Homo sapiens: one gene and its partner. The protein of the gene in region 2 purifies or fractionates together with the protein of the main gene of each other region. This does not show direct contact. Each region holds a gene or a part of one and is shown on either strand. Other genes may lie near its edges. The genes, in order: ALS2 and NEK1.

Region 1 (16,061 bases), on a different chromosome or scaffold from region 2:
CAGGAGTTCAAGACCAGCCAGGCCAACATGGCAAAACCCCATCTCTACTAAAAATACAAAAATTAGCTGGGCATGGTGGCACATGCCTGTAATCCCAGCTACTTGGGAGGCTGGGGCAGGAGAATCGCTTGAACCCAGAAGGCAGAGGTTGCAGTGAGCTGAGATCACACCACTGCACTCCAGCCTAGCGACAGAGTGACGCTCCATCTCAAAAAAAAAAAAAAAAAAAAAAATTAGCCAGGCGTGGTGGCCCGTACCTGTAATCCCAGCTACTCAGGAGGCTGAGGCAGGAGAATCGCTTGAACCTGGGAGGTGCAGGTTGCAGTGAGCTGAGATCACGCCACTGCAGTCCAGCCTGGGTGACAAAGTGAGACTCCATCTCAAAAAAAAAAAAAAATTTAAAAATTAAAAAAAAATAAAAATAAAAATTGATTCCTGTTAGAACAAGGACTTTCTGAACCTTGCACATCTTATAATGAGAATTTAAAATGCATTACATACTGGGTTCTAAAAGACTCTAAGAATAAACATGGTACAGAAAACATATCCTTGGGAACAAAAACCTGAGGTGCTACCAAATATAATAATAAAATTAAAGCTGCAATCAATAAAGAAAAACAGACATATGCCAAAAACTGTCCACTTCTGTGATTGTGCCACATCTAGGGAGAGATGGTGGGAGAACAGAAAATAAAGCCAAAAATGCAATGGGTATAATATACTTAGATTTTGCCTTTTTTTCCTCATATATGCAGATTTTACTATTCCACTTGGGGTGTGTGTGTGTGTGTATGTTCTTTACTTTTCAAAATCAAGTTGTGTACAGATTCCATTTAAGAATGCTCTTTCAGGCTGGGCGCGGTGGCTCACACCTGTAATCCCAGCACTTTGAGAGGCCAAAGTGGGTGGATCACTTGAGGTCAGGAGTTCGAGACCAGCCTGGCCAACATGGTGAAACCCTGTCTCTACTAAAAATACAAAAAATTAGCCTGGCATGGTTGTGTGCACCTACAGTCTCAGCTACTTGGAAGCCTGAGGCAGGAGAATCGCTTGAACCCGGGAGACAGACACTGCAGTGAGCCAAGATCACGCCACCACACTCCAGCCTGGACGACAGACCAAGACTCCATCTCCCCTCCCACCTCCAAAAAAAAAAAAAAAGAACACTCTCTCACACATGGAACTTTCCTTTTAAACATCCATGCTTTAAGGCTTATAATCTAAACCAAGACTACAGACAAGACTACAGATTTAGTCATCTAAAGCAGTGTCAGTTGACAATTCAAGGAGGTTACATCTTGTTTAAGAAAAAAAAAAAAAAAAGACTTTGGCCAGGTGCAGCGGCTCATACCTGTAATCCCAGCACTTTGGGAGGCTGAGGCAGGAGGATCGCTTAAGCTCAGGTTCAAGACCAGCCTGAGCAATAGCAAGACCCAGTCTCTACAAAAATTAGAAAAATTAGCCGGGCATGGTAGCGGGTGCCTGTAGTCCCAGCTACTAGGGAAGCTGATGCGGGAGGATCACGTGAACCCAGGAGGTCAAGGCTGCAGTGAGCCATGATCATGCCACTGCACTCCAGCCTGGTGACAGAGTGACACCCTGTCTCAAAAAATAAAAATAAAATAAAATAAAAAAGAAGACTTTAAGAACTTGACTTTGCTTTTAAAATATTAACCAGCTTTGATAAAAGCAAGACAACTCCAAACATTCAATAATTAATCCAGAATTAACACTAGTTACTCACAAAACTTTAGGTCTGTCTTTATCACTCTCATATAGACTAGGTTTGAAGTAGGTTCCAGTGATTTTTATCCCAGATCCCCATTCTCCACTAAAATAACCTTCAATGTAGTCTCCATTTGGCATAGTCAGTGTTCCCTAGGTAAAGTCAGAGAATAAAATGTGGGGTTAGAGGAAATATATTCAATATTCATTTATTTATTTAGAGACAGAGTCTCACTCTGTTGCCCAGGCTGGAGTGCAGTGATGCGATCTTGGCTCACTGCAACCTCCGCTTCCTGGGTTAAAGTGATCCTCCTGCCTCAGCCTCCCAAGTAGCTGGGATCACAGGCGCCCGCCACCACGCCCAGCTAATTTTTTGTGTTTTCAGTAGAGACGGGGTTTCACCATGTTGGCCAGGCTGGTCTTGAACTCCTGACCTCAAGTGATCCACCCACCTTGGCCTCCCAAAGTGCTGGGATTACAGGCATGAGCTACCACGCCCAGCCCTCAATTTTTAAAATCAAGAGAAAAAAAGCACTAAATGGTTGTTTTCCTTTTTAACTTGCTCTTTACCAGTCTCCAACTCTTTAAAACTCAAACAAAATATGGGCACATGCATGTCTAAAAGAGTATATGAAAATAATCCATGGGTAAAAGAAAAAAACACACACACAGGGAAAAGTCAAAAATATTTTGAACTGTATAAAATGACCATACAATATATCAAAATTTAGGGGATGATGTAAATTACAAGCAGTGCTTAGAGGGAAACTTTTAGCTGTTAACACCTATCTTTTCAGGAAGTTCTCGAATCAGTAATGTAAAATTCCACCTAATAAAATTACAAAAGGAGGAACAAACTAACAAACTAAACCCAAAGCAGGAAAGAGGAGGGAAATGATAAAGATTAGTGCAAAAATCAGTAAATGAGATAGAAAACAAAAAATAAAGAAAAATCAATGAAACTAGAAGTTGCTTCTTTGAAAAGATATATAAAATTGACATTTAACTAGATTAATCAAGAAAAAAAAGAGAAAACATAAGTTTCTAAAATCAAGAGTGAAACAGGTTATTACTACCAGCCTATAGAATTAAAAAAGTTAGAAGGTGCTATTGTTTGGAAAGTGTGTCTCCTCTAAAATCTGTGCTGAAACTTAAACCCCACTGTGATGGTAGTAAGAGGTGGGGTCTTTTGGGAAGTGATTAGGGACAGTGTCCTCATGAATGGTGCAGTGCCTTAGAAAAGGGCCAGAGGGTTGGGCGCTGTGGCTCACGCCTGTAGTACCAGCCCTTTGGGAGGCCAAGGTGGGCAGATCATGAGGTCAGGAGTTCGAGACCAGCCTGACCAACATGGTGAAGCCCCGTCTCTACTAAAAATACAAAAATTAGCTGGGCACGGTGGCACGTGCCTGTAATCCCATCTACTCAGGAGGCTGAGGCAGGAGAATCGCTTGAACCCAGGAGGTGGAGGTTGCAGTGAGCTGACATCATGCCACTGCACTCCAGGCTGGGTGACAGACAAGACTCCGTCTCGAAAAAAATAAAAATAAAAATAAAAATAAAAATAAAAGTGCCAGAGGGAACTATCTTAGGCCTTTTTGCCCTTCCATCTTTTGCTATGTGAGGCCTCAGCCAAGAAGGCCTTCACCAAACAGGGAATGCTGTAGCCTTGATCTTCGACTTCCCAGCTTGCAAAATTGTGAAGAAATAAATTTCTCAGTCTATGACATTTTGTTAAAGCATCACAAACATACGAAGACAGAATGGAATACTAAGAGAACAGCTTTATGCCAACAAAGTAGATAACATAGAGAAATAGAAAAACTCCTAGGAAGACAAAAAGTACCAAAACTGACTCAATAAGAAATAGAAAATCTAAATAGACCTAAGGCAAGTAAAGAAACTGAGTTAGAAATTAAAAATTTTCTCACAAAGTAATGCTTAGGCCCAGAAGACTTCATTGGTGAATTCTCCCAAACATTCAAAGAAGAAATAATACCAAAGCTTCGCAAACTTTCAGAAAATAGGGGAGGAGGGAACACTTCCCAACTTGTTCTATGAGGCCAGAATTATCCTGATATCAAAGACAGACAAAGACATCACAATAAAAGAAAACTACAGACCATTACCTCTCATAAATATGAATGCAAAAATCCTCAACAAAATATTCGCATTAAATCCAGCAACACCAACATATAAAAAAAATTATACACCATGACCAAGTACAATTCATCCCAGGAAAGCAAGGTTGGTTTAACATCAGACAAGCAACCAATATAATACACCATATTAGTAGAATAAATGATAAAAACCACATGATCATCTCAACAGATAATGGAAAAGCACTTTAACAAAAAATGCTTTTCAGCCAAGCATGGTGGCTCATGCCTGTAATCCTAGCACTTTGGGAGGCCGAGGTGGGTGGATTGCTTGAGCTCAGGAGTTTGAGACCAGCTTGGGCAACATAGCGAAACTCTGTCTCTACAAAAAAAAAAAAAAAAAAAAAAAAATTAGCCAGGCATGGTGGCATGTGCCTATAGTCCCAGTTACTTGGGGGGCTGAGGAGGGAGGATCGCTTGAGCCCAGGAGGTTGAGGCTGCAGGGAGCTGAGAACACGCCACTGCACTCCAGCCTGGGTGACAGAGTGAGACACTATCTCAACACACACACACACACACACACAAACACACACACACAAAGCTTTTCTCTAAAATAGAAAACAATGTAAAGATGTCCAATCTTAACATTTTTCTATTCAACATTCCACAGGAGACTCTAGCCAGTGCAACTGGACAAGAAAAAGAAATAAAAGCCTTCCATATTGTAAAGAAAGAAGCAAAAATGTCTTTACTTGTAGGTGATATGATTCTGTATGTAAGAAATCCTAAGAAATCCACACACAAAAAAAACCACTAAAACTAATAAACGAATTCAGCAAGATTTCAGGAAACAAGAACAAAATACAAAATCAACTGCATTTTTATATTATAGCAATGAAATTAAGAAAACAACGCTTTACAATAGCATCAATAAAATACTTAGAAATAAATTTAACCAAAGAAATGCAAGATGTGTACACTGAAACCTGGAAAATATTGCCAAGAGAAATTAAAGATGTAAATAAACTGTGAGGTGTTCTATGTTCATGGGTTGAAGAGTCAATATTAAGATGGCAATTCTCCCCAAATTAATCTATAGATTCAATGCAATCTCTATCAAAATCTTAGCAAGGTTTATTGCAGAATCTTGATAAGCCAGTCCTAAAATTTATATGAAAAGTCAAAGAATCTAGATTGGCCAGAACAATTTTGAAAAAGAACAAATTTGGAGGACTTATATTCCTGATTTCACAACTTACTAGGAATCAACAGTAATCTAGATGGTGTGGTATTAACACAAGGAGAGACATGTTTATCAGTGAAATGTAACTGAGAGACCAGAAATAAACACATTTTCTGGTCAACAAAGGTGCCAAGATTCAATGGGAAAAGGTGTTGGGAAATTTGGATAGCCATATGCAAAAAGATTAGTTTGGACACATAACTCAGCCCATATACAAAAGTTATCTTAAAATGAATCACAGACCTAAATATAAAAGGCAAAACTATAAAACTTTCATTTTTTTTTTAGACGGAGTCTCGCTCTGTCACCCAGGCTGGAGCACAGTGCCACGATTTCGGCTCACTGCAAACTCCGCCTCCCAGGTTCACGCCATTCTCCTGCCTCAGCCTCCTGAGTAGCTGGGACTACAGGTGCCCGCCACCACGCCTGGCTAATTTTTTGTATTTTTAGTAGAGATGGGGTTTCACCATGTTTGCCAGGATGATCTTGATCTCCTGACCTCGTGATCTACCTGCCTTGGCCTCCCAAAGTGCTGGAATTACAGGTTTGAGCCAACAGGCAAAGACTTCTTAGACATAACATCAAAAGCATAATTCATAAAATTTTTTATAGAGTTTATTAAAATGAAAAACTTTTCTATTTCAAAAGACACTATTAAGAAAATAAAAGACAAGTCAGACTGCAAGAAAATATTTACAAATCATATCTGATAAAGGACATGTATCCAGAATACAGAAAGAACCCATACAATTCAACAAGAGTACAAACAAAATTTTAGAAATAGGCCAAGATCTGAATAGACATTTCATCAAAGAAGATATATGAATCACTAATAAGCATGTTCTACATCATTAGTCACTAGGGAATGCAAATTAAAACCAGGAGATACCACTTCATACCCATTGGAATGGCTATAAGAAAAAAGACAGAAAATAAGAAATATTTTTTGATATGGAGAAATTAGTATCCTCAGACATTGCTGATGGGAATGTAAAATGGTACAGACACTTTGGAAAAAAGTTCGACAGTTTCTTAATATGTTAAACATCAATTTACCATACAACTTAGCAATTACACTCCAGGCATCTACTTGAGAAATGAAAATGAAAACATATGTCTACACAAGAAACTGCATTCAAAAGTTTATAGCAGCATTATTTACAATAGTCTAAAGTTGGAAATAACCCAATGTCCATCAACTGGTAAAAGGATAAACAAAATGTAGTTTTGGAACACTATTCAGCCATAAAAAGGAACAAATACTATACATGCCACAATATGGAAAAAACAAAAACATTATACTAAGTGTAAGAAGCCACATAGAGGAGATTGCATGTATGATTCCATTTATACAAAAGGCCCAAAAAAGGCAAATCTATAGAGTGATTAAGGGTGATTAGTGGTTGGCTGGGACTTTAGGTGGAAATGGAAGTCACTGAATGAGCAGAAGGGATTTTCTTGGGCGATGGAAATGTTCTGAAACTGGATTGTGGTGGTGGTTTGTACAGCCATGTTGACCAAAAATCACTGAAACGTGCACTTGAAAGGGGTGAATTTTATGGCATGTAAATCAGCTATTTTTAAAGTAAAAAAAAATTAGTAAAAGAATTTATTAGGGAGAAAAAAAAAGAAAGCTAGTTTCCAACCTTTCCACTAAGAGTCCAGTCATCTGAAAATTCTCCTTCATAGATAGTATCATCTTCGGAAAGCAAAACCCCATTTCCCTACAAGAAGAAACAAGAGAAAAATTACAACACATAAAATACAGAGTAACTTAAGAGTGCACGCAGTCATATCCCCAAAGCCTTATGGAATCTTAAAAGAAGGAAAATAGTACTAAGAAGGTGGAAACTAATCAAAAGATGATTTAAAAAGTTAAGGACAAAGGAGCTTTAAAAAGTTAGTAATAACTACATGCAAATATTCCACTCACCATCATTTTATTAAGGTGAAAGTTGCCCTCGTAGTATAATCCAAACTGGGTAACCACCACACCATTCCCTTGACACACATCATCTTGCCACATTCCCATATACTTTTCCCCCCTGCACAGAAATAAAAAGAAAAGAAAAAGCACTGAAGATAAGGATAAAGTAGGGAAAAGACAATTATCACATGGGAGATCCCAGGCATCAACCCTAGGTTGGTATTGCTTCCATTTTTCTAGTTAAAATAGTTAACTTTGTCTCCTCAAATATGGGACAAAGTGATAGCAAAAGACATCTCACTCAGTAATCCTCTCTGAGGAATTTAATGTTGTGGTCTGACACAGATCTGTATATATCCCAGGTAGTTACTTGGTAACTTTAAAATACATAATTTTTAAAAAGAAGGTCTAGAATTCAACTCTAAATAATTTCATTTAAAATGTAATAAGCAGAATAAAACCTATGCACAGGTTTTTCTTACACAAAAGTTTGCTAACTTAAAAAGAAAGAGGCTGGATTCGGTGGCTCATGCCTATAATCCCAGCACTTTGGGAGGCAAAGGCAGGTGGATCACTTGAGGCCAGGAGTTCGAGACCAGCCTGGACAATATGGCAAAACCCCATCTCTACCAAAAATACAAAAAATTAACTGGGCGTGGTGGTGTGTGCCTGTGGTCCCAGCTACTTGGTAGACTGAGGTAGGAGGATCCCTTGAACCCAGGAGGCAGAGATTGCAGTGAGCTGAGATCGCACCACTCCAGCCTGGGTGACAGAGTGAAACCCTGTCTCAAAAAATAAAAAAGTAAATAAAAGGGTTTGTCATAAAAGAAGGTTCATTTTTCACCTACTCAAACTCAAAGAAATCTTACTAATCTCCATGAAAAAGACAAAATAAGTATAAACTGCTTGTTAAATAATGATGGTGCTTAATCATTGGCTTAAACTGTGGGAATAGAAGGAGAATACTGTACCTAGTGATATCATCAAAGACACCATATCCTGCTTTCTTATCCATTACCCACTGGCCAATGAACATACTAGGAGAAGAGGACGTCAATTTCCCACTTCGTAGAAGACCATGACCATGACGCATATTATCTTGAAAACAGCCCTCAAATACTTCACCAGAAGCATAGCTGTGGTTGGAAAGAATGGATAATTATCACATGCACATTGAATTCTGATGCTCATTTTTACAAAGTTTAGAAAATCCAAAACCATACTCAGTCTCACTGGTAGCTATAATTATTTGTTTATATGATTATTTTTCACCAATTAAAAAAACCTCATTTTCGAATGATTAAAGTTAAAAAGTTAAAGACACCATGTGTGGTATTTTGCATTAACATGAAAAACAATGTGTTTTTATTCTCTTATGGGAAAATGAAATAATGAGTTATTTTTAAGAGGGAAGAATAAAAGTTTTGTCCATTAGAATCCTATATGTCTTATTATAGATAAGACCATTTTTTCATAAAATTATGGTTTATAAGGTATATAAAATTTAGGGCTGGGTGCGGTGGCTCATGCCTGTAATCCCAGCACTTTGGGAGGCCGAGGCGGGTGGATCACGAGGTCAGGAGATCGAGACCATCCTGGCTAACGCGGTGAAACCCTGTCTCTACTAAAAATACAAAAAATTAGCCGGGTGTGGTGGCGGGCGCCTGGAGTCCCACCTACTCGGGAGGCTGAAGCAGGAGAATGGCATGAACCTGGGAGGCAGAGCTTGCAGTGAGCCAAGATTGCGCCACTGCACTCCAGCCTGGGTGACAGAGCGAGACTTCATCTCAAAAAAAAAAAAAAAAATTTAGATAAGAACTAAATTTAATAATCCAGTATTTTAATCCTGCGATAGATGAGGGGTTAACCTTTAAAAGATGATCACACAGAGTTTCAATTTTATTTACTCCTCTAAATTTTATCTATAAGACTAAACAAAACTTAAAACTTGGAAATTTTGGCTATGCAAACATTCAGGTTTACATGGTTATATGAAAAACAAACACCAGTCCAACAGCCTTTCCAATGTTACCTGTAGACTCCTTGACCGCACATTTTTCCTTCTTTCCAATGGCCCACATAATGGTCTTCTTTGTTCATTGCCTTGTTTGGGATTCTGTATTCTCCATACCTGCCATGAAAAAGAAAAAATAACAAAAGAAGATGCATTTATGACATATTCACCTTTTGTATGTATATCCTGGTAAACATTTTAACAAGGAAGACAGAGAAAACATTCACCTGTAGGAGTAAAGGGTTAAAACAGCATCTTGGTTTAAGGTGAATCTATAACCTAAGCTGTTTGGCAAGAGGAGTGGGACATCAGCCCCACTACACTAAGATATGGTGTTTTAATCCAACTCCAGTGAAAAACAGAAGACCTGTGTCCTTCACCTATCTCTGTCACTAATTACCTGCACCACCATGCGGTAAGCCCAGGTATCTAGCTCCTTTATTTGGATAATAAGAGGGGCAACTCAGTGGGTAAATTAGATGATCTAAAGTCTCTTCTCATTCTAACAATCTATTAAAAAGAGATTTTAACACATCACAAGAATTTACATGATCACACAGACACACAAAATCACCTACCCAACATTTTTTATATACTAAATTACTTCCTTAACATTATACAAAATACTGCCATAAACTAATCATGTAAATACATTTACAGTGTTAGAAAACATGATAAACTTATTTTTAAAAAGTCATTAGAGCATCATTGAGATAATATAGCACTTGGAAAATTTCTCCTTTAACAGATCACAGAAATTAAAGATGACTTAAAACGACTGAAAGGAAAATTTTTCTATGTCCTTTGTGTAAAGGAGGACTACCATCTCAATAGTCCCACCATTAACATTACCAAAGATCTCAGTCTTCACAACTGAGAAATGAATAGAAAACATAGCCCCATTTTAACAGATGGAAGGCTGTGTAATTTGAGGTCACACGGCTATCAGGGAAAATGACCCAGTCTAGGTAAATCAGAGGCTGTACCCCTCACTCCTGGCTCTCTTCATGCTCATACATGTGCATTTCTAAAAAATAACAACAAAAATCTACTACTTGTTTGAAAAGCAGCTCTGCATACAAAATAACATAATTTACGACCTTACCGAACTTGAATTTACTGTCATGTTTTACACAATTTTCTTACCCATCTTCCAAGCCATTCCTGAACATGCCAGAATACATCTTTCCATCAGGCCACTTCAAAACCCCTCTGGAATGCATAAGCAAAGAATAATGCATGTCAACTAATATTTCAGATAATTAATACTTTTTCTATCATGTGATGATCATCCTCACCCCAGGCATAAATCTTCAACATTTTCACCTGCCATGAGGCTTCCCTGAAAGCCAGCGTCCATCATAGGTGGCATCCTTTAGGCGAGGATCCTTGTAGAAAGTATATTTGGCACTGCGTGAAATGGGTGGTTCCTGTCTCTGAACACTGCTACCACTTCCATAAGGGGGGAGATCAGACATCCCTCTCAAAGCCTGATCTACGGCTTGGCTTATAGCTCGTAGCCACTTTGTCTAGGAGCAAAAAGTAACGTCAATAAGTTTAAGGCAACAATTCATCAAGCATTGCTTTAAATCCTGCTAGTTTTCTTTGGTGTGAATAAATTATTTGTGTCCTAATGCTTTTCTTATTAATAGAGTAATATTGACTGGCTCTTGTATTTCTCTGCTATATGTTTAAAATTAAGTCACATTAAAAAAAAAAACAATGAAGAACCTACAGTTTTGGGTTAATGAAGATTTATCAGACAGAACTGTGCATCATTAGTCAAGCAAGAACAATTTATATTTCTTCTTTATTACACAAGAGGCAGAAAGAGCCAGGGCGAAGATTGAAGGAAAATACCATAATAGACTAACCTTTTCCTGGGGTGTAGATGAAATGAGAGTGAACTGCTCCTCAGGTGTAGTTATCTTTAAGCCATTCCTAAAACGTTCACAAGGATAAATACCAGGACATTTAACAACCTGTCATTACAGTATCGATCCTCAAATATGAAAAGCAACCTCTTTATTTCAAGAGGAACAGAAATCAATTAATGTAAATGCTTGCTTGGTTTTGGGCGCCACCACGGTGGAAAGAACAAAGAATTCTCTGCTCTGTGCTGAACGATGGGGATGTGTGCAATGAAGATGCCCTTTCATCACCTAATCGTGACTTGCCATGATCTTCACAACAGGCCATTTTATTATCAATAGACTACTTTACTGTCTAATGTGCTGAGAGGTGGGCCTCATTATACAGAATGAGGAGACTGTCTCCGAAGCCTTCCTGAGCTTTTTTTCACATTTAAGGAAGCAACCTGGGTAACAGACTTGGACGGGGTGGGGTGGGGAGGGGGGACGCACTTACACACCACCAGCTTCTTCAGACAGTGGCTCTGCCCACAGCGTGGCCAGAGGGAAAACATGGTGCGTGGAGAACTGAAACAGAGAACACGGAGGCACTTTTATGAAAGCCCATGTAGACCTCGGGGACTCTGCCCATATCCCCTTCATGTCATTAACCCACATGGGCCTTGCAGTCTCTGCTGCAGAACCCCTTGAAATAGTTAAGCCCATGTAGGTGCCACCAATTCTGCCACATTGTCCCCATAACACAGCTAACCCAAAGGGCCTTGCCATCTCTGCTGCAGGGCCCTCTTCACATGGCTGACACTCATTCTCAAGCTGGAAACTTAAGAAGTTCTCTGAAATCCAACGCATACAGAAATCCATGCTGTAGCTAAAATAGCCTCTTTTTTAAAAAAAATTATTATTATACTTTAAGTTCTAGGGTACATCTGCACAATGTGCAGGTTTGTTACATATGTATACACGTGCCATGTTGGTATGCTGCACCCATTAACTCGTCACTTACATTAGGTGTATCTCCTAATGCTATCCCTCCCTCCTCCCCCGACCCCACGACAGGCCCCGGTGTGTGATGTTTCCCTTCTTGTGTCCAAGTGTTCTCATTGTTCAGTTCCCACCTATGAGTGAGAACATGCAGTGTTTGGTTTTTTGTCCTTGCTATAGTTTGCTGAGAATGATGGCTAGCCTCTTTTAGTCAACAGTTTCAGTAAAATCACACTAGTTTTGAACATAAACTGATAGTACAGTTAATAAGGATAGGGGTCCACCTTTCAGGAATTCTTTTAAGGTTAGGAATCCAGCCTACCTGGGCATGGACCAGGGCATCATTAAAGAGAATGAACCAATTCACGGAAAACCTCCCAGCATGCTGCAGAGACAGGGCTCGGTTACTACTCTCACACAGCAGTCGACGCTCTGGCTTCCTCAAGGAATCCTGGAATTAAAGACAAATATAATACAAGTCAAACAATCAAAATTATTTTAACATGTAAAGAGAAAATAAAACAGACACAAATCACATTTAAGGGAATTTGCTGGTCGTAGCTTAGCTTGGTGTAAAATCTAAATTTATATGGGATCTAAACACTTCACAAAATTAGAGCTCAAAGGAGATTAAAAAGAAGACAAAAACAAACTAAAGAAGGTGAGTAAGTCTTCAGAGAGGATTTCTAGAAATGAGAGAAGGTATTTAGAGTACCCATTAGTATGGTCCTTAGACATTTTAGGAAAGGGGTCATTAAAAGGTTATTACCACAAACAAGTGAGGAACAGAGAAAATTGTATCAATTGTTATCGAAATGGTTGCTGTTTGCTAGGGTAACAAATGACAACTGGCATGGCTTACCGTCATTTTTCCGGGGAAGGTCTTCCAGAAGCCCAGTGTGTATTCTGCTTCCTTCCTTTTCCTGCCGAGATGGAGAGCAAGACACTCATAACAAGAACTGGAATCCTGCAGTTTCTGATATTCTGGAGATGCCTACAGGGCAAAAATTAAAGAGGAAAAAAAAAAAAAGAACATAAAACCATTATGCAGAATCTGTAGCCTCAGTCTGCCTTAGACATATAGTATTAAATGTAGGAGAAAATTCAGCCCACGAGCATAAGTAGCACACTGCAGGAGACTGGGAAAAGGAGATTGGTTTCAGAAAAATTCTACTACATAAAAGTACATATGAAATAGGGGCATAACTCAGGTGACAGAGACAAAACCTGGCAGTTAGTGAATAGAGCAGCAGAGACCCCAGGATAGAGCAGGAGTTCTCAAATATTTTGGTCTCGGGATCCCTTTATTTTTCTTATGTGGACTGTATCTATTGATATTTACCATATTAGAACATAAAATTAAGAAATGTTAGAAGCTTTTATTAATTCACTTACAAAAATTTTTTAATGGTAGGGCGCGGTGGCTCACACCTGTAATCCCAGCACTTTGGGAGGCCGAGGCAGGCGGATCACGAGGTCAGGAGATCAAGACCATCCTGGCTAACACGGTAAAACCCCGTATTCACTAAAAAAATACAAAAATTAGCCGGGTGTGGTGGCGGGCGCCTGTAGACCCAGCTACTCGGGAGGATGAGGCAGGAGAATGGCGTGAACCCGGGAGGCGGAGCTTGCAGTGAGCCGAGATGCGCCACTGCACTCCAGTCTGGGCAACAGAGCGAGACTCCGTCTCAAAAAAAAAAAAAAAAAAAAAAAACAACTTTTTTTGTGAGAAAAGTGGCAATGGTCCACATTTTTTCAAATCTCTTTATTATCTGGCTTTAAAAATGACAGCTGGACTTTTATATCAGCTTTTGCATTTAATCTGTTATATGTTGTTTGGTTAAAACCTATGAAGAAAATGTGGCCTTATAAAGGTATATATCTGGAATAGAGGGAAGCATTTTAATAGCCATTTCAAATAAATGTGGATATTCTCCTTTGATACTATATTAAAACTTGCTATGTGGTAGATTCTTAAAGGGAGCTGCAATGTAGAATCTGAAACCACAGCAATGAGCTTTTTGTACCCTGTGATGTTAAAATCCAGGGGTCTATCATGCACTTTGAATGGGTCTTTTACCATCTATGGCTTTGTACCATCTATGATTGTGGATTGGACATATGGAAAATATCGGTTGACTGAATTATGCAGATTTTCCAAATGTTGATACCTTTTTTTCTATAACATCAAAAATCACAGGATAATAGAACTACCAATCTCATGAGATAAAGTCCTAAGTATCAGGAAACTGTCAGACTCACAGTGGCAGATCCATCTCTAACATTCTAATTTTCGCTTAAAAGTTGAGATTTTATTATTGGCAACAAATACTATCAGTTGTTCTCTTTGAAATGACAGGTTCATTTACTCATTTCTGAGAAAATATCTGCCAATATCCAAATCTGAAAAATCAGTTTATCTGTCAATTGTCCTTTCAAGTTTAAAAAAAAAAAAAGCAACCCATTTATTTCAAGAGGAGCTCTCAACTCAACTATCACAGTCATGCTTTTTCTTGAAAAACTGCCACACTTCAGCATGCAGCAGAGCTGCTTTACATGTACTTTGCATGTCACCACACATAACAGGACATTCTTAAGCGAAATTGTATTTTAACTGCAACTGCATGGCAGTGAAGAACGCAGTGACTACTAGTATAGTCTGGTGCCACTGCCTTGATTCCTACCAAGGAGCCAGCAGTTTTACCCACCTTAACTTTTGCACCATCAGTGTAAATGACAATACAGTGGAAAAGGCAAATATCTTAGTATTGTCATGAAAATAGTTTTGACCTTGTGAACCCCTTGAAATAGTCTTTGGAAGCCCCAGGGGTCTGCAAACCAAGTTTTGAGAAACAACTACTGGGATGGGTGTAACCGCTACACCATGTAGCGAGGGAGCAGAAGGTAAGATCAAAGGATGATCTCTCACGTTTATGAGTAATTACTTTACTTGCTACAATTCTGAGAGTCACTCATTTTCATTTTTTCCATTCATTTAAGAAACATTTAATGAGTATCTACCACATATAAAACATTCTGCTAGAGTGCTAGGGAAAAAAAAATAAGGTATGATCTTTGTACCATAATTAGACAAGATAAAAAATGTACCAGAATAATGCAGTGGTTTTGTTAATAGGTTATATATCATAAAAGACAATCTAGGAAAGTAGGTTAAGAGGACAGATTCTGGAACCAGAGCCTGGATATTAATTCTAGCTCTGCCAATTCTCAGCTGTGTCTCAATTCTCTTATCTGTAAAAGGCTGATGATGAAATCGGTAATAATAATAATACCTACTTCACCGAGTTGATGTGGGGATTAAAGTTATATGTATATATGAATACATATAACTTGCTTAGAACAGTGCCTGGCATATAGAATTCATTCAATAAAAGTATCATCATTATTTTTATATGGAGACATTTAAAAAAATACATATATGTGTACACACATATATGACGTCAAGGCTGTGCCTTAGACTTACTAAATTATAACGTATAGTGATGGAATACAGGCAGGTTTTGTTTTGAAAAAGCTTCCACAGTTGATTTTGAACCCCTGTGATAAGGATAAGGGCCATTGATATAACATGAGAAGTGAATAATAGAGAAAGAAAGTGTTAGCAAAACACAGAGTAAATAATCCTTCAGAGATGGATAGGTGAAAGAGAACCAATATAGTCAAAGAGGGCTTTATTTTCATGATAAAATGACTTTTGTCCCAGAATGAGGATGGGAGTGGGAGTGTTTCAGGAAGGAAATATAAAGCATATGAAAGCTACATCCAGGGAAACTGAACTCTGACTCTCAACAATTCTAAGCTGATCTGGTGGAAAATTTTTTTATTAATTGAGGCCATATTGAGGTGAAAGCTGTATCTCATTGGGATATTTGAGAGGTCAAACCTTCACAGCTAAAGCTAGATCAGTTTAAAGACCTTGTAGGTCTTTTCTTTAGTCTGGTTTCACAGCAGGCTCAAATGTAGAAAGCCTACATCAATCAGTTCCTGGGTCACTCTGAGGGGTGAAATCTGTTTAGATCAAGAGACAGACCCAAAGATTAAGAGGATTCTAAACCTACAAGGGGCCAGCGTGGTGGCTCATGCCTGTAATCCTAGCACTTTCGGAGGCCAAGGCAGGCCAATCACTTGAGGTCAGGAGTTCGAGGCCAGCCTGGCCAACATGGTGATATCCCATCTCTACTAA
Region 2 (16,061 bases):
ATGGAGCTCTAAGTTTTCCTGTTTCAAAGCCCAGAAAGTAGTTTAAATGACCTCTTCCTATTTTAAATAGGCTAAAATAAATAGCATCCTTATTTGTGCTAACAGAACTTGCTATTCAGAAGGGTAGAAAAAATGCTATTAACTTAAAAGAATGGCTTGCCAAATTTTTATCATTTATGATAAATAACTTCACTGATGGATGAACTATACAAATCTCCATAATAATTTCCAGGAAGACAAGATACACACACACATACACACACACACCACATTATGTACTAAGAGTACTTATCAAAGAGTAGAATCAAATCTATAAAATATCAATGTGCTTTATAAGGGAATATCATTTAATAGCAAACATTTTAAAGTTCGATAGGGATAAATGAATGAAAATAAGCACAAACAATGAAATATATCTGACAATGTTCTAATAAAAATAGCATTGTATATACTAACATACATTACTATTTGACCTTCACCACATGTATAGTAGGTATCTCCCTATTAACAAATGAGAAAATAATCTCAGAACTTGTTAACAGAACAATTACCAACTTGATAAGTAGAGCAAGAACTCAAACCCATGTCTGTGCCTGGCCAGAAATGGCACAGTGGCTCGTGCCTATAATCCCAGCACTTTGAGAGGCCAAGGTAGGAAGATTGCTTGAAGCCAGGAGTTTGAGAACAGCCTGGGCAATATAGCAAGACCTCATCTCTACAAAAAAAAAATAATAATAAAATAAATTTTTAAAAAATTAGCTGGGCCTAGTGGCACGTTTCTGTAGCAGCAGCTACTCCAGAGAGTGAGGTGGGAAAATTGCTTGTGTTCAGGAGTGCAAGGCAGCCATGAGCTGTGATGGTGCCACTGCACTCCAGCTGGGGTGACAGAGCGAGAGCCTATCTTAAAAATAATAATATCCCAGCCAGGCGCGGTGGCTCACGCCTGTAATCCCAGCACTTTGGGAGACTGAGGCGGGCAGATCATGAGGTCAGGAGATGGAGACCACCCTGGCTAACACGGTGAAACCCCATCTCTCCTAAAAATACAAAAAATTAGCCAGGCGTGGTGGCAGGCGCCTGTAGTCCCAGCTACTCGGGAGGCTGAGGCAGGAGAATGGCGTGAACCCGGAAGGCGGAGGTTGCAGTGAGTCGAGATTGTGCCACTCCACTCGAGCCTGGGTGACAGAGTGAGACTCCGTCTCAAAAAAAATAATAAAAATAAAAATAAATAAATAATAATAATATCCCATTTCTGAATGTGTGTGTCTTAATGTATATATGTACATGTGTTAAGTATGGAAAAGAAAGTCTGGAAGAATACACCAAACTAAAAGCAGTGGTAATCTCAGGAACAAAAGGGTGGAGAAAGAAGACTTTCCATTTCTGTATACTTCAATACTTTTATAATTCAAGTGTGTGAAAAGAAAATGTTATAAACTTTAGAGTTAGAGGTGGGTTCAAACACTGACTATGTGATTTGGGGCAAGTACTTAACCTCTCTTGGATTCCTTATAAATTGAAAAAACTTATCCAAATTAGAAGAGATAACAAATACAACACTCCTAGCACAGTGCTCCCTCTACTCCCCTATGTAAAAGCGGGCAATTAAAATTAAGAACTGGTGATAATGAGAAATGTGATAGGAATGTAGAGAAGGAAAATATCACAGATTAAAGTAGTTATGGAAAATTTAAAGAAGCTGGGACTTGAACTGAGCTTAAAAAAAAAAGGTAGAGTATTAATAACAAAGTTTGGGGAAAAGGCTTACCAAAATAAATGAAATAATCAGAGTAAATACACAGGAAGGAGAATGAGATGTACAAACATGTGGCCCGGTGCCTAACACAAAGCACATGCTCAATAAATATCTGTTAAAGCAAATGAAAAGAGGTACAGATTAGGGAATAGAAAAAAATAAGGCTGCTTAGGTAGGGAACGGCCATATTTTAGAGATCCTGGAAATCAAAAGAGAGATTAGATTTAATGCAGTTGTCGGTGCAAGGCTTCTAGAGCTGGAGTTACCTGGCAAAGCCACATTTTAGGAATATATAGTCTGGCAGCAGTAAGCCAGATTGACAGAATATAGACTAGTCAGTTATAATGAATAATTAAGGCATATACATAGACGCATGATATATATAACATACATCACAGAGATAACAATATATCATTACAGACTATAAATGAGATGGGCAACTGAACAAAGGTGGCAGCTAATTAGAGGTAAATATGAGTAAACTATTGATATACTAAACTTCCCTAGTAATTTTGATTAGCATTTGTAGTTAAAAACAAATACACACATAAACAAATTTTGAACTACTTCTCAATAATAGAGTAAGAGTCAATTTCCTAAATGCAAACTTACCTGATCCTCTTGAAACAAAACGCCTTTCTGAGCATTTATTCGCTTAAACAGATCCCCTCCCTCACAGTAATCCATTACTATGTAGAGAGAGCCATTTTCTACAAAATATAAACATTACAGTCCACTTTTAAAAACGTACATCAAAAGCATGGCTAAATTAAAAGTACTTAAAAGCTTACTAAAAAGCAGCTGCTGAACAAAAAACAGGACCATACTCAAAAGAATTAGGGCACAAAGTCAAGGTATACCGGTCACAAAGATTGTATAATGACTTAGGTTAACAGAAAACTCCATCATTAATGATTTCTATTAAAAATACACTATTTTATTGAATAGTGCTGTTTGCATTGACCTAAACATCTCTGAAATATAAACAAAATGCAGACATACTTGATTTCATTCAATAAATACAATTCCTTAAATGTCACACATAAAATCATGTTTTTCCACCAATATATCACATCAGAGATGGGTTATCTTAGTTTTCTGACTGGCCATTAATTCTCTGCTTTGTTTTATCCACTTTAATCACTTACTTATTAAATAAATAAAATAATAAGTGTTGTGATAAACTCTGAGGATTCAACAGTGTATAGGATACACTGTTTCCACCCTCTTTGAGCTTTCCTTAATTTTATGCACTTTTTAAAAAATTGCATATGATTTGTGAACAAACATGAAGATGGGCACTGCCCCATCCACCTTTATGTCTCGGTCCACAAAGAAAGGTACTTCTGTGCTTCTTCCTATGGATAGAAAGGACTACAAGAATACTTCTTTTTTTTATTTAGGCTTTTTTTTTTCTTTTAAGAAAAAGTGTCTCAATATTTTGCTCATGCTGACCTTGAGCTCCTGGGCTCAAGGGAACCTCTCGCCTCAGCCTCCCCAATAGCTAGGACTACAAGCCCATGCTACTGTGTCCAGCTTAGAAGAACACTTTGATGATTCTTTCCATCCCTTACTTCTTAAGTAAGGAAGAGTGGCCAATATCACTTTTAACATTTTCTGAATCACTACATAGTACTGAGACTATCACAACTCAAAGAACAGTTTTCCTAGTTCTCACTTCTTTCACTGACTGTGCTATGGCCTTATTTCCAGCAGTATTTTTTTTTTCTTTTGAGACAGGGTCCAGGTTAGAGTGCAATGGCACGATGATGGCTCACTGTAGCCTCGACCTCCCGAGCTCAAGCAAACCTCCCACCTTAGCTTCCAGAGTAGGTGGAACCGCAGGCACACACCACCACACCTGGCTAATTTTTTAAATTTTTGTAGAGATGGGGTCTACAAACACCCTATGTTTCCCAGGCTGATCTCAAATTCCTGGGCTCAAGAGATCCTCCCACCTCAGCCTCCCGAAGTTGCTGAAATTACAATTGTGAGCCACCGCATCCAGCCTCCAGGAGTATTTATTTCTTATACTTTGTGGTGACATTCTTGTCACTCGTGGTGCACATATCTTCTTTTGATCTACTGTTTGTAATGTGCCACTGGGATAAGAATCTATATGATAAAGCTAATTAAGAATCTGTATGACTTTTTATGATTGACCTGGAAAGATCATCCAAATATACATGTGAGAAATTATAATGTGAAAAAAACTCCTGAAAACTATAATTCACTATTTATATGTATATAGATGTTATAATGTATGTAGCATAACAAAAAGCAAAAAATTACATATACTATGCTATCATTTATGTTTGATGCTAGCATGTATTCTTCTAAAACTAAGAGAAATAATAAAGCCTTATTTTTAAAATACGCTACCCCTTTTGAATCACACAGATGTTTCTATGTGAAGCAGTCAATATAAATCCAAAACATCTGCTGGAATATTTGCTCAAAACCTTTTAACTTGAAATATTAAAATTTTGTTAACAACAACAAAAAAAGAAACTAAAGGATAGATGCCAGGAGAAAGATAAAGGAAAATTCAAGGTCCTGAAAAGGAAGAGTTGGTTAATTTTGTACTCTTTCACATGAAATATAAATCTTCATTTCACTGCCAGCATAAAAAATACAGTACCTTGTGACATAATGTATTAATTGAATCACATTTTTATAAAAGTAGAAGAGACTTATAGTAGACACAGAGTTCATCTGGGAATGTAGTAACTTTAGCTCTAATTCAGACTCTGAAACTGGTATGTGATATGTCCCTGAGTCATTTCAATTATCTTCTACTTTCAATCTAGATTACCTGGTTTTTAGTTTACAGAAATTAAGTTACAGAAATTTATAATAATGAGAATATTTGGGTAGGACTTCAATAAACCACTTTGACCTGCCTTTAGAGAAGCTTTGCCTTATCTTAATACCTGCATTATTAAATATAATGCATATAGTTCCAAAACAGCATTATAGCTATAATACTTTAAGAACCTGAGAAAACTTTCAACATACCTCACTATTATAATAGTGAGGTACAGAGGAGCATACTGAGTGAGGATACTTTCTAAAGATCAGAACATTTTCTCAGTGGTAGTGGTGGCAGCACTTACAGGAAGTTCAGTTAAAAAATATGTAAATTACTGTTCTTGCTCTGTCCAAATTCTTGCACTTACTGCATTGCTTCTTTTAAAGCAATCACTAATAACAGCCAGTATTAAATTATACAGGCACAGTTGGGAGGCTGAGGCATAAGAATCACTTGAACCTGGGAGGCAGAGGTTGGAGTAAGCCGAGATCATGCCCCTGCACTCCAGCCTGGGCCACTGAGCGAGACTGTCTCAATTTAAAAAAAAAAAAAAATGCAGGCATGATATCAGTATTGTCCTTGAATCAAGCTGATATTCATATGCGTATGTTTTTAAGCAAAAATGGTATCTTTTTCCTAAGAATGCATTCACAAAAAGATTTATTAATGTCTTAGGATTTTTTAACTCTCTCGCATAATTTATCTGACCTTCAAATGATTCTCTATACTGGACAATATTTGGATGCTTCATGTTTGCCAATACTGCAACTTCTCTCCTTGATTCTTCTCTTTCTTTACTGGACATCTTAAATGGGAGGAAAAAGAAAATAGTAAATGAAACCATTAATAAACAACCTAAAAGTCCATCAATAGGTGAGTGGTTAAAACATAATAGTATTAATACAGTTCAATCAACAAAATATAGCAAGAAGTTAAAAAGAATGAGTTGAATCTGTAAGTAGAAACATTTTAAGATGTCCAAACTAGATTAGGTTACAGAACAGCAAGTATATTTTTCTAAACACATAAACATAAGCACATATCATAGAAAAAATCTGAAAGAATATATAGGCTATTCTGATATTAGCGGGAATAAAGGAGTCTTTTGCTTTAGGTTATCGATTACTTTTTTTTTTTTTTAAAGAAAATCTCTAACAATGAGCTCTATTGTAACTAAACCATTACTCATGAAACCAAACTAAAAATATACTTACTCTTGAGATGTTAATTTCCTTGATAACATACTGTCTGCCATCTTCTGTAGATTTAACAAGAATGGCTTTTCCAAATGAACCTTCTCCAATCTTCTGTAGTCTAACATACTTCTCCATGATTCTTTTTCTAAGGCATCTTTACAGATATGCTAGACATTTAAAAAACTAACAAAAAAGATAAAGCATTTATAACATGAGATAAAACATTATAACTTCATAACAATTTTAATGTTTAATTCAAATTCTAATTCTTTAGTGATTTGCTAACATTTTAAAAAAGGATATTTAATATATTCACTAAAAGTTACACTTTATATACTTTACTAGTACAACCTAATTACATCCAAAAAAGAGAAAAAAATGTGATATTTCAATTTTATAAGAATGCTTTGGAAAGCCAAATACTGCATATACTTAATGTATGGAGAGAAAGGCAAACTTACATGAATTAATTAGTAGCATTACTTTATTTTCTCCAAAAAGAATGAAAACCTAATAATACACTATTTCTTGAAGTTATTTAACTAATCCCCTCTTATTCAACATTCGTTTAAAATGTTTGCTAGTATAGAACAATTTTGGATAGTTTTTGTACACATATTTTAATGTGCTTATTGTAAGGATTTCCTTAGGATAAATTCTGAATTCAAAGAATATGCCCATGTTACAGTATGGCTTTCAAACATATTAAGTGTCTTAACAGAACTGTCTACTAATACGTATTTAGCCAGTAGTGCCTGCTACTAGGTACCCTCATTAACACTGGTTATTATTATTTCTTGTATTTAGGGAGATGTTTACTGTAATGTCATTTATAACAACAAAACACTGGTTGTTATTTATTAAAATCTTTGAGAAGCAATAAAGGGTAGTAGTTAAAGAACACTAAAAAGTTTAAATCTTAGCTTTATCACTTATTTGTTATGTAAACTTAGGCAAGTTACTTATCTCTATGTGCTCAGTTTGGTCACATGTAAAATGTGAATAACCATAGTACATATTTACAGAAGTGTTGGAAGAATTAGTTAATGTAAGAATGTACTGAAAACAGTACTTGGCACATATGAACACTGTGTCACTATTTGTTATTGTTGTTACTCCATACGTCTAATGGGGAAAATGGTGTTTCGTTTTTATTTTGATTTCTTTTGCTTACCAGTGAATTTGAAAAATTCTTCCACATTTATTGAACATTTTTTTTTTTTTTTTTTTAAGACAGTCTCACTCTGAAGCCCAGGATGGAGTGCAGTCACACGATCTCGGCTCACTGCAATCTCCACCTTCCAGGTTCCAGCGATTCCCCTGCCTCAGCCTCCCAAGTAGCTAGGATTACAGGTGTGTGCCACCACACACAGCTAATTTTTGTATTTTTAGTAGAGACGGGGTTTCGCCATGTTGGCTGGTCTTGAACTCCTGACCTCAGGTGATCTGCCCGCCTTGGCCTCCCAAAGTGCTGAGATTAGAGGTGTGAGCCACCATGAGCGGCCACATTTATTGAACATTTCTATTTTTTCTCTTTTGAACTATTCATCCATGTTCTTTAATCATTTTATACTGAGTTGGTCTTTAATTTGTAAAAACTCCTTATGTAATGAAGTCCTTATCTGTCATAAATTATTTTCCCTTATATCCTAGTTGCCTTTAAGTATAAAAGATTATTTTGATATAAACAAATGTATTAATCTTTTCTTTATATTTCTACTTTTAGTATCACACTTAAACCCTTACCATACCAAAACAATTGATTAAGGTCATTAGTATCTTTAGGAATAGTAATTTCAAAAGAGTGGTAGTTTCAGGAGAAGCCAGAATACAATAAGCTAGCTAGTGAAAGCTGAAAAAAGTGTGAGAAAGAGTCATAAGAGCAATAATGTGTACAACCTATTGGCAATATCACCCTTATTGTAGACATACATGAATTTACTATGCTAATCTGAAACTAATAAACATTTAATTCACCTAGCTTGCTCTTTTTTATTTCCATTCATAGCAGGCTTCCAATGTGTGATTCCTTTCTAGGAGAAAATAAGTTTGTCGTGAAACTCTTTTTAAATTTCTGTGGCAGTTTACCATATTTCTCATTGTAAATTAAAAAATCCATGTTCTTATCTCATCCATCAGTGCCAAATTTGTTTTTAACTTTATTTTGCCTCTAAAAATGATCCAATCTCCTTAAATGACAAACATCATATGCTGTGCCTACAAGACCAGACCACAGGCCAGAACTCAGCCTGTGGTAGCACTGATGAGATAAGTATGACTCATGAAATTTTGTGAGAAAGAGCCTTTCTCTACCTTAGAAAACAAGATTGCCTTTAGCAACTTTAAGAGAAACAAGAAATAAACCATTATTATAGCATTTTAGCATCAGTGAGTTAAAGAAGAAAAGTTGTTCCAAATATATTTTCAAGCCCAAGTTGTGTTAACTGGCACAATATAATGGCTATCTGGGCACCAGCCACAATTTAATGATTTTTCCAGAACATGAATGTTTAATATATTACATTACTATGCTACTTACAAAAAAAAATCAAGATAAACTCATCTTAGTAATCTAAATTTCAAAAATTAAATTAAATAATAGCCATATAATGAGATTACTTCACAATCATCATTATTCTGCGACTTTCTGCCAAGAGAGGGAAACAAAATTAGTCAATTTGGCCATTCCTTAAAATTAAGTTGCCAATTCCTTTCTAGGGACCACACTAATAAGACAGAAGCTCCAAAAGTCCCCAGTGTTGCATTCTACTGCCAACAACATTACTGAACATTGTGGTTCTAACTCTATAAAGCAGACCTACTGATCCTGTTAGTAAAGAAAGATGACTCTAATTGCCATCAAATATGTCAAATGCAGACACTTTTCTGAACAACAAAAGACTTGTGGTAGATGACTTTCAGGAAAACAGACAAACTCTCCTTTTTTGTAATGTCAGTGTACAATAAAGGAAGTAAAAGGGAAAACATGAAAAAATAGATTACTTTCAGCATCTTACAATATATTTAACTGAGCTACTTCCTAGTTGTGAGACTTCTCAACTGAATTATAATTCCATAAAATTTTTCATACCAAATGAAATAGAAAACAATAACAAATTGTACTATAGGCTTCCACATACAAAATCATAACTTATAACTGAAGGAACATACGAATCCTGTTTACTTCAGTATTGTAATAAACTCAAATTAATGTTTGCCTTTTCTACCATTCAGTTTCCAACATCAAATGAAAATCACAATACCAACTTTACTCACTCTATAGTGTTCTTAAGGTCTCTAATAATTATATCAATTCAATCTCTATAATACATAGCTGATCCTGAAGATAAGCAACAAGGAAAAAATCAGAGACTTTTTTGATATTTGAGCTTTCCAAAGAGTTATGTCACCTAATAAAGCAATGAATTCAGAATCAAGAGACAAGACTAGCTACATAATCAAACGCTAACCATCTGCCTTTTGTGGACTTCAGTTTCTTTATCTAGAAACACGAAAGATTTAAACCTAATGCCATTTTATAGACCTTGCCAAGTCGACTAGTCTATGACTCAAGGAGAAGAAAATTAAAAAGTCAGAAAATATATAATGTCAACACTGTTTAGAATTGTACTCTTAGCCACAAAGAGTAAGAGTGATGGGGAAAGCCATTCCATCAAAAAATTAAAAGAAGTCATACTAATTTCTTTAGCCTAATTATTTAAAAAGTAAAAATAAATAAACTGTAATCTACAGTTAAGCATACTAGATTGACCCGTACATATTTACCTCTACTACTTGTCCAAACCTGAGGAACATGACTTTAAAGGGATTACCAAAAAGGCAAAACAGAAGAGAAGGCAACAGCAATACAGTTCTAGAAGCTGGCAAACACAAAAGAACATGCAGCAACTGACTTAGGAGAATAGAGAAAAGCTGTACCTTAAGCCAGCAGTGGGAAATAAGTCAGAAACAAGTCAATTCCCACCACAAACTAGCTCAATAATTGGAAGTACTGGGGCATCTAAGAGTGAGGATAATATTAGGACTCAAACAGGATTGGTGAAGAGCTTGTGTAAGAAGTGTCAGACACTTAGTTTGCCTCCTCCACCTCTCCCAGTCAGATAAGTACTCCTCTCCCATCTTGAAAGAAGACCACAGATATCTCTAGATTGGGTACACCAGGCACAACTAAGAATGGAAATCCCATCTATGATCTAGGAGATTAAGTGAAAGTCTACATAATAAATCGTGAGACTCTCTTTCAACCATGATGGTGTTCTTAGTATCAGATCACCTCACCTTCCAAAACAACTTAAAACCTGAACAAAATATATAAAGAAACAGCAATGCATTGAGGGGCTATAATCACCGAAAGGTGGAAACATACTAGTGGGTTCTACATTCATCCCAGCCTTTTCCCTGAAGAGAGTTTCCAAACTGTGCTACAGTACAATGGAGCTCAAGTATAAAGCAGCAGTCTTGCTGAGGAGAGAAAGCGGTCAGAGTTCAGGGCTACCAAAATCCTGAAGAGGAAAAATAATAGAAGGAGTCCAAAAATCTACAGTAAGTTCTGCTCCTGTTATTCTGTTCCTAAACTGTGCATACATGGAGGAGGACTGAAACAGTCTCATCCTAACAAAGCCTAAAAGCAACCATGGATAAAATCAAAGTTATTCACTGATACTTCATCAGACTGCCAAAACAAAACTAACAATTTTTACAAGATACATGTTTCAGAGTCTCTAAGACTTTTCATTCACAATGTCTAGTATCCCATCAAAAAATAATGATGCACATTAAACAAAAACAGATATAGACTCACAAATGACTCAAACATGAAGTTACTAATAGAGGACTTGAAAGTAACCATGATTAATTAATATGTCTAAGAAAACAAGATAAAAAGATGGATAAAACAGATTTTTTAAAAGATGGAGAATTTCAACAAAGAATTAAAATTTTTTTTTAATTTTTAATTTTTTTTTGAGACAGAGTCTCGCACTGTTGCCCAGGCTGGAGTGCAGTGGCGCAGTCTTGGCTCACTGCAAGCTCCACCTCCCAGGTTCACGCCATTCTTCTGCCTCAGCCTCCCAAGTAGCTGGGACTACAGGCGCCTGCCACCACGCCCGGCTAATTTTTTTGTATATTTAGTAGAGATGGGGTTTCACCGTGTTAGCCAGGATGGTCTCGATCTCCTGACCTTGTGATCCGCCCGCCTCAGCCTCCCAAAGTGCTGGGATGACAGGTGTGAGCCACCGCGCCTGGCCTCAAAATTTATTTCTAAAAAGTGGACATTCTAAAACTACAATATAAAATATCTGAAATTAAGAACTCATTCATGGATTTACGGCAGACAGGACACAGCAGAAGGCAGGATTACTAGCCTATAAAATGAACCAATAGAAAATATTCAACAAAAAAACTGAGAGAAAAATATTAAAAAACAACAACACACACCGGGATGGGGGTGGGGGTGGAGAAAGAAATGTATAGGAAGACTTAATATCATAAAGATTTTCATTCCTAATCTCTACAGTTAATGCTGTCCTAATAAAAACATAAGCTTTGGGGCTGGGGGTGATTAGACAGGCTGATTTTAAAGTTCAGACACACACACACATACACACACACACACACACACACAAAGAAGAAGAAGAACAGCCAGAGAAATATTGAAAAAGAAGAGCAATGAAGGAAAATTTGTTTGGCTTAATATCAAAACACATTACAAAGCTACAATAATTATGAAATAGGCAAATCACAGGAAGTCCAGAAATCAAAAAACTTTTAAAACTTGGTTAATAATCATAGTGACATTTCAAATCAGTAGGAAAAAAGATGAATTTTGAAATAAAAAGTTCAAAGCCAGCAGTGAGACAACTGGGTAGCCATGTGGGGAAAAAAAGTTAATTTATTCCCTCATTTTACACCAACCTAAATTCTAGATGCTAAAATACTGAAATGTAAGAAATAAAAGCATAATAGTAATAAAATAAAACATGGGAGAATGACTTCTGTCTTAGAGTGGTTAGCTGAAGCACAACACAAAATCAAAAAACCTTGAGGGATTAATATGACTAGACCAATATTTTAGCTATTACAACGATCTCATTTTTCTAACAAATAAAAAACTCGTACATATTTATAAGACCAAAAAACACAACAATCCAAAAGAAAAGTGGACAAAGGATATGAAGTTAAACGTTAACACTGAGAATGAATACAAATTATGTTAAAATGTGCCACGATACCCAATCTCCTGTAAAACGATATACAATTTTGGCCGGGCATGGTGGCTCACACTTGTAATCCCAGCACTTTGGGAGGCCGAGGCAGGCGGATCACTTGAGGTCAGGAGTTTGATGTCAGGCTGACCAACATGGTAAGACCACTGTCTCTACTAAGAATACAAAAAATTAGCTGGGTGTGGTGGTGCAGGCCTGTAATCCCAGCTACTCGGGAGGCTGAGACAGGAGAATCGCTTGAACCTGGGAGGCAGAGGTTGCAGTGAGCTGAGATCACACCACTCCACTCCAGCCTGGGTGACAGAGCGAGACTCCTTCTCAAAAAAAAAAAAAAAAAAGAAGAAGAAATACAATTTTAAAATACAAGGGGTAAGTTTTATGTTATGTATATTTAACCACAATTTTTTTAAAAAAGCACAAGAGACGGCATGTTTCATCAATTAGAATGGCAAAATTCACAGTTGATTATTGTACTGTACTGTGGGGGAATAGCAGGAAACAATATGGTGGGACTATAAATTGGTACAAGCACTAAGGAAAATAATTTGGCAACATCTACCAAAATTATAAGGGGACAGAAACTTTGATGTAGTGATTCAATTTCTAGCAATTTACCCTACAAATATTTCCAAATGTAGGAAAACAAAGTATCTACAAAGTTATCCTCTGCAGCACTGTTTCTAATAGAGCAAAATGTAATCATTCACATACAGTCAACACAGCAACTTTTAAACTGATATAATTTCTTAATACACTGTTAGATTTTTAGGGATCAGAATAATAAATATGGCATGCTATCATTTGTTTAGTAAAAGGAAATACATAAGTATATATGCTTACAGTTACTCATATATGTGTATAAATATACATATGTATATATATACACACATGCACCCCTGGCTTGTATTAAATAATATCTATGGAGAGATACACAATAAACTAGTAATACTGCCTACAAAGAAGGCATTTAATAGTTGAAAAGATTTTTCAATCTTTTGTACTTTCTGAATTTTGAACCATACAAATGTATTATCTATTCAAAACAATAAATATTAAAACAATAATATCTGATAGAAATAGTAAGAATACTGGCTAAATCAATTTCTCCAATTAAAATCCTTCAACAATTCCCCATCTCCAAACTCCTCACTTTTGACATTCAAAGTTTTCTTATGGCATCATGCTTCTTTTCAAGTATATGAACTATGCTCCAGAAAAAAGTACCTCAGCCTCTAGTCAAATAAGACAGCTTTCCTCACATTTTACTAAGAATTTCTTTTTTTTTTTTTTTTTCTGAGACAGAGTCTTGCTCTGTTGCCTAGGCTGGAATGCAATGGTGCCATTTCGGCCTCCGAGGTTCAAGTGATTCCCCTGCCTCAGCCTCCCAAGTAGCTGGGATTACAGGAGTGTGACACCATACCCAGCTAATTTTTGTATTTTTAGTAGAGACGGGGTTTCGCCATACTGGCCAGGCTGGTCTCGAACTCCTGACCTCAAATGATCCACTTGCCTCGGCTTCCCAAAATGCTGGGAATACAGGTGTGAGCCACAGCGTCTGACCCAGAATTTCTTTCTTTTTTTCTTTTTTCTTTGAGACAAGCCTCACTCAGTCGCCCAGGCTACAGTGCAGTGGCAGTATCTCGGCTCACTGCAACCTCTGCCTCCCGGGTTCAAGCAATTATCCTGTGTTAGCCTTCCAAGTAGCTGGGATTACAGGCACGCACCACCACGCCCGTCTAATTTTTTGTATTTTTGGTAGATATGGGTTCGCCAGGTCAGCCAGGCTTGTCTCAACCTCCTGACCTCAAGTGATCCACCCACCGTGGCCTCCCAAACTGCTGGGATTACAGGTAAGAGCCACAGCACCCAGCCACTAAGAATTTCTTTAAAGCCACAAATAAGCAATTTTGGACATAATAAAATTTTGTGAGCCACATATAAACAATTTTAGAGTATATGAATGGAAAAGCTCAACTTCGATCAATCTGGAACACATACTTAGGTTAAGCATTAAGCTCTCATCAGGTGTTTCAGATATTCTATAGACAGGCTGTCTTGAAGGGAAACATGGTAAAGGCATGGCAACAGGTTTCAAGAAGTCTTTTGGCGCTGTATGCAGCTACAATCCATACATACAGTTCTGCCTAAGCAATAAATACCATCTTGAATAGTGGGAGGGGATCCATTTATCTTCTCAGGAAAAAAGTTCTTTATCTTCCTTTATTCGAAAAAGCAGAAAGCAAAAATGGAATTTCTATTAGACTTTTTTCAAAATATTTTTTCTTCTCTGTAAGTCTATTCAGACAATATTCAACAGATTTTGTAGTAGAAACTACCAACAGGTAAATAAAGAATGTACATTCGTGAAAAGGTGTCATGTTCATGACTTAGACTAGAAGGCAGGAGATTAGACAGGGCAAAATTTACTTGGAATACAATGTCAATGTACTATTCACACGACCTCAAAAGAACTTCTGTGGTCAAGTCCGACGACCTTTATTAAATTCCTGACAGTGACTTTTAACGTGAAAAAAACCTGTTTTCCCACAAAATAGGCTCCTTACATTTCACCTAGAACAATGGATATTTTAAGTGAAACAGATCTGTAGAACCTCTAAAACCAGACAAATGTAAACTAGAAACAAGGAGTTACTTCTCTCCAAATTTGGCTCCCCTCCATCAGCTCTACAATACTGCTGCATCATAAAAAAAGGTCATTAACTTAGATTGGATGCCACTTTTAATCCTTCATAAACATTTCTAATGAAACATACCAAGGCAATAAAAAATATTTCTGCTTCCTAAAGCAGATCTTAAAGAACAAAAAATAGGCCTGCAAAAAAAGTTATGATAAACTCTTAAAGTAGTACAACAATTAATGCCTTACATATGGAAACTGTGTCAAATCATGGAAACAGAAATCTAAGATTACAGGGTAACCAGCTAACTACTACTCATATTCGCTTCCTAATTAAAATTTATCAGTAATTTAAGATTGGACACAACATAAGCAATGCAAATGCTTGCTTATCCATACTAAGATTCCTATTATTTTAATCCCATTACCGCTCTAGTTTTTAAAAATACCGTAATGTCCAAGAATCGCTTTGTTAATACAGAGTGTCTTAGAGAATTAACATTTAAATGAGATTAAGGTATTTTCCCTGCAAACACTTAAGGTATCTGTGTAATCTCAATATAAGCAGTTCTACGCACATCTCATTTCCAGGATGATTTTTACCATTTTGCATGTCATTCCTTCCCCCAAGTGGAACTCACCTCAGTGACACAGGACGTTAGTAGGAATAACGGTGATGACTAATAAGCATCAGTCTAGGTGTGGCAGTCTTCCTACGGGGCTTAATAAAGCAGAGGTACCATCCCGCATTTTGAAAATGACATCCTGAAAGAGAAACCAAGACTGTCTAACCAGCAGCAGCTCACAGTCCAGACTGAAAGGGGGCACTGAGACTCTCCACACCTGACACTCGTCTTCAGTTGATACCACGGGTTTGACTCCGTCCTGTCTCGGGCGACGCCCGTAAGACAGGTCGACACTACCCCGACGAAACAAACAAACTGGTTTCTGAGCCCCGTAGAAACGGCGGGGTGCAGCAGGGGGAGTGCCTCCGTTACCGCCTCTCCAACTTCACAGAGGTCGTTGCTAGTGGCCACGGCGGGGTGGGGACGGGCGGCGTTCGGGACTGGGAAGCTACTTGACTGCCACGTGCTCCTGCCTCGCAACAGCGGCTCTAGATTCCGAGTTATGGGGACAACTGCTCGAGAGGCCAGGGTAGGGTAAGGACTCCGCAACCTAGGGTCCCAAAACCCTGGAGCGAATGCGGACTAAGGGAGAGCGGCCGGCGCGTCACCGGCGCTGGCGTGTGACGTCAGCGCGTGGAAGGCGGCACGCAGCGGAGGCGGCTGGGAAGGAGCAGTGAGGCTGGGCTAGAACCGTAGGGTCGGGCGGGGTGCTGTGCGAAGGGGCGGGCGGGGTGCTGTGCGAAGGGACGGGAGGGGCGGGCTCTGCAGGCGGGAAGACAGAAAGGACG

What was found.
Region 1: the proteins of NEK1 (region 2) and ALS2 purify together in Homo sapiens (affinity purification with mass spectrometry; 3 studies listed by BioGRID and IntAct, with this or other methods). This does not show direct contact.

Annotation. Positions count from the first base shown.
Region 1 is NC_000002.12:201,716,333-201,732,393, forward strand, and holds part of ALS2 (alsin), read right to left. Parts: intron 12,852-16,061; coding exon 12,720-12,851; intron 12,309-12,719; coding exon 12,180-12,308; intron 11,444-12,179; coding exon 11,373-11,443; intron 10,947-11,372; coding exon 10,880-10,946; intron 10,535-10,879; coding exon 10,332-10,534; intron 10,218-10,331; coding exon 10,152-10,217; intron 9,123-10,151; coding exon 9,024-9,122; intron 8,128-9,023; coding exon 7,963-8,127; intron 7,110-7,962; coding exon 6,998-7,109; intron 6,789-6,997; coding exon 6,711-6,788; intron 3,797-6,710; coding exon of another isoform or gene 3,704-3,796; exon of another isoform or gene 3,654-3,703; intron 1,879-3,653; coding exon 1,745-1,878; intron 1-1,744. UniProt on the Homo sapiens protein: May act as a GTPase regulator. Controls survival and growth of spinal motoneurons.
Region 2 is NC_000004.12:169,596,732-169,612,792, forward strand, and holds the start of NEK1 (serine/threonine-protein kinase Nek1), read right to left. Parts: upstream 15,853-16,061; 5' UTR 15,491-15,852; exon of another isoform or gene 15,413-15,490; 5' UTR 15,289-15,412; intron 5,948-15,288; 5' UTR 5,900-5,947; coding exon 5,783-5,899; intron 5,374-5,782; coding exon 5,277-5,373; intron 2,467-5,276; coding exon 2,369-2,466; intron 1-2,368. UniProt on the Homo sapiens protein: Phosphorylates serines and threonines, but also appears to possess tyrosine kinase activity. Involved in DNA damage checkpoint control and for proper DNA damage repair.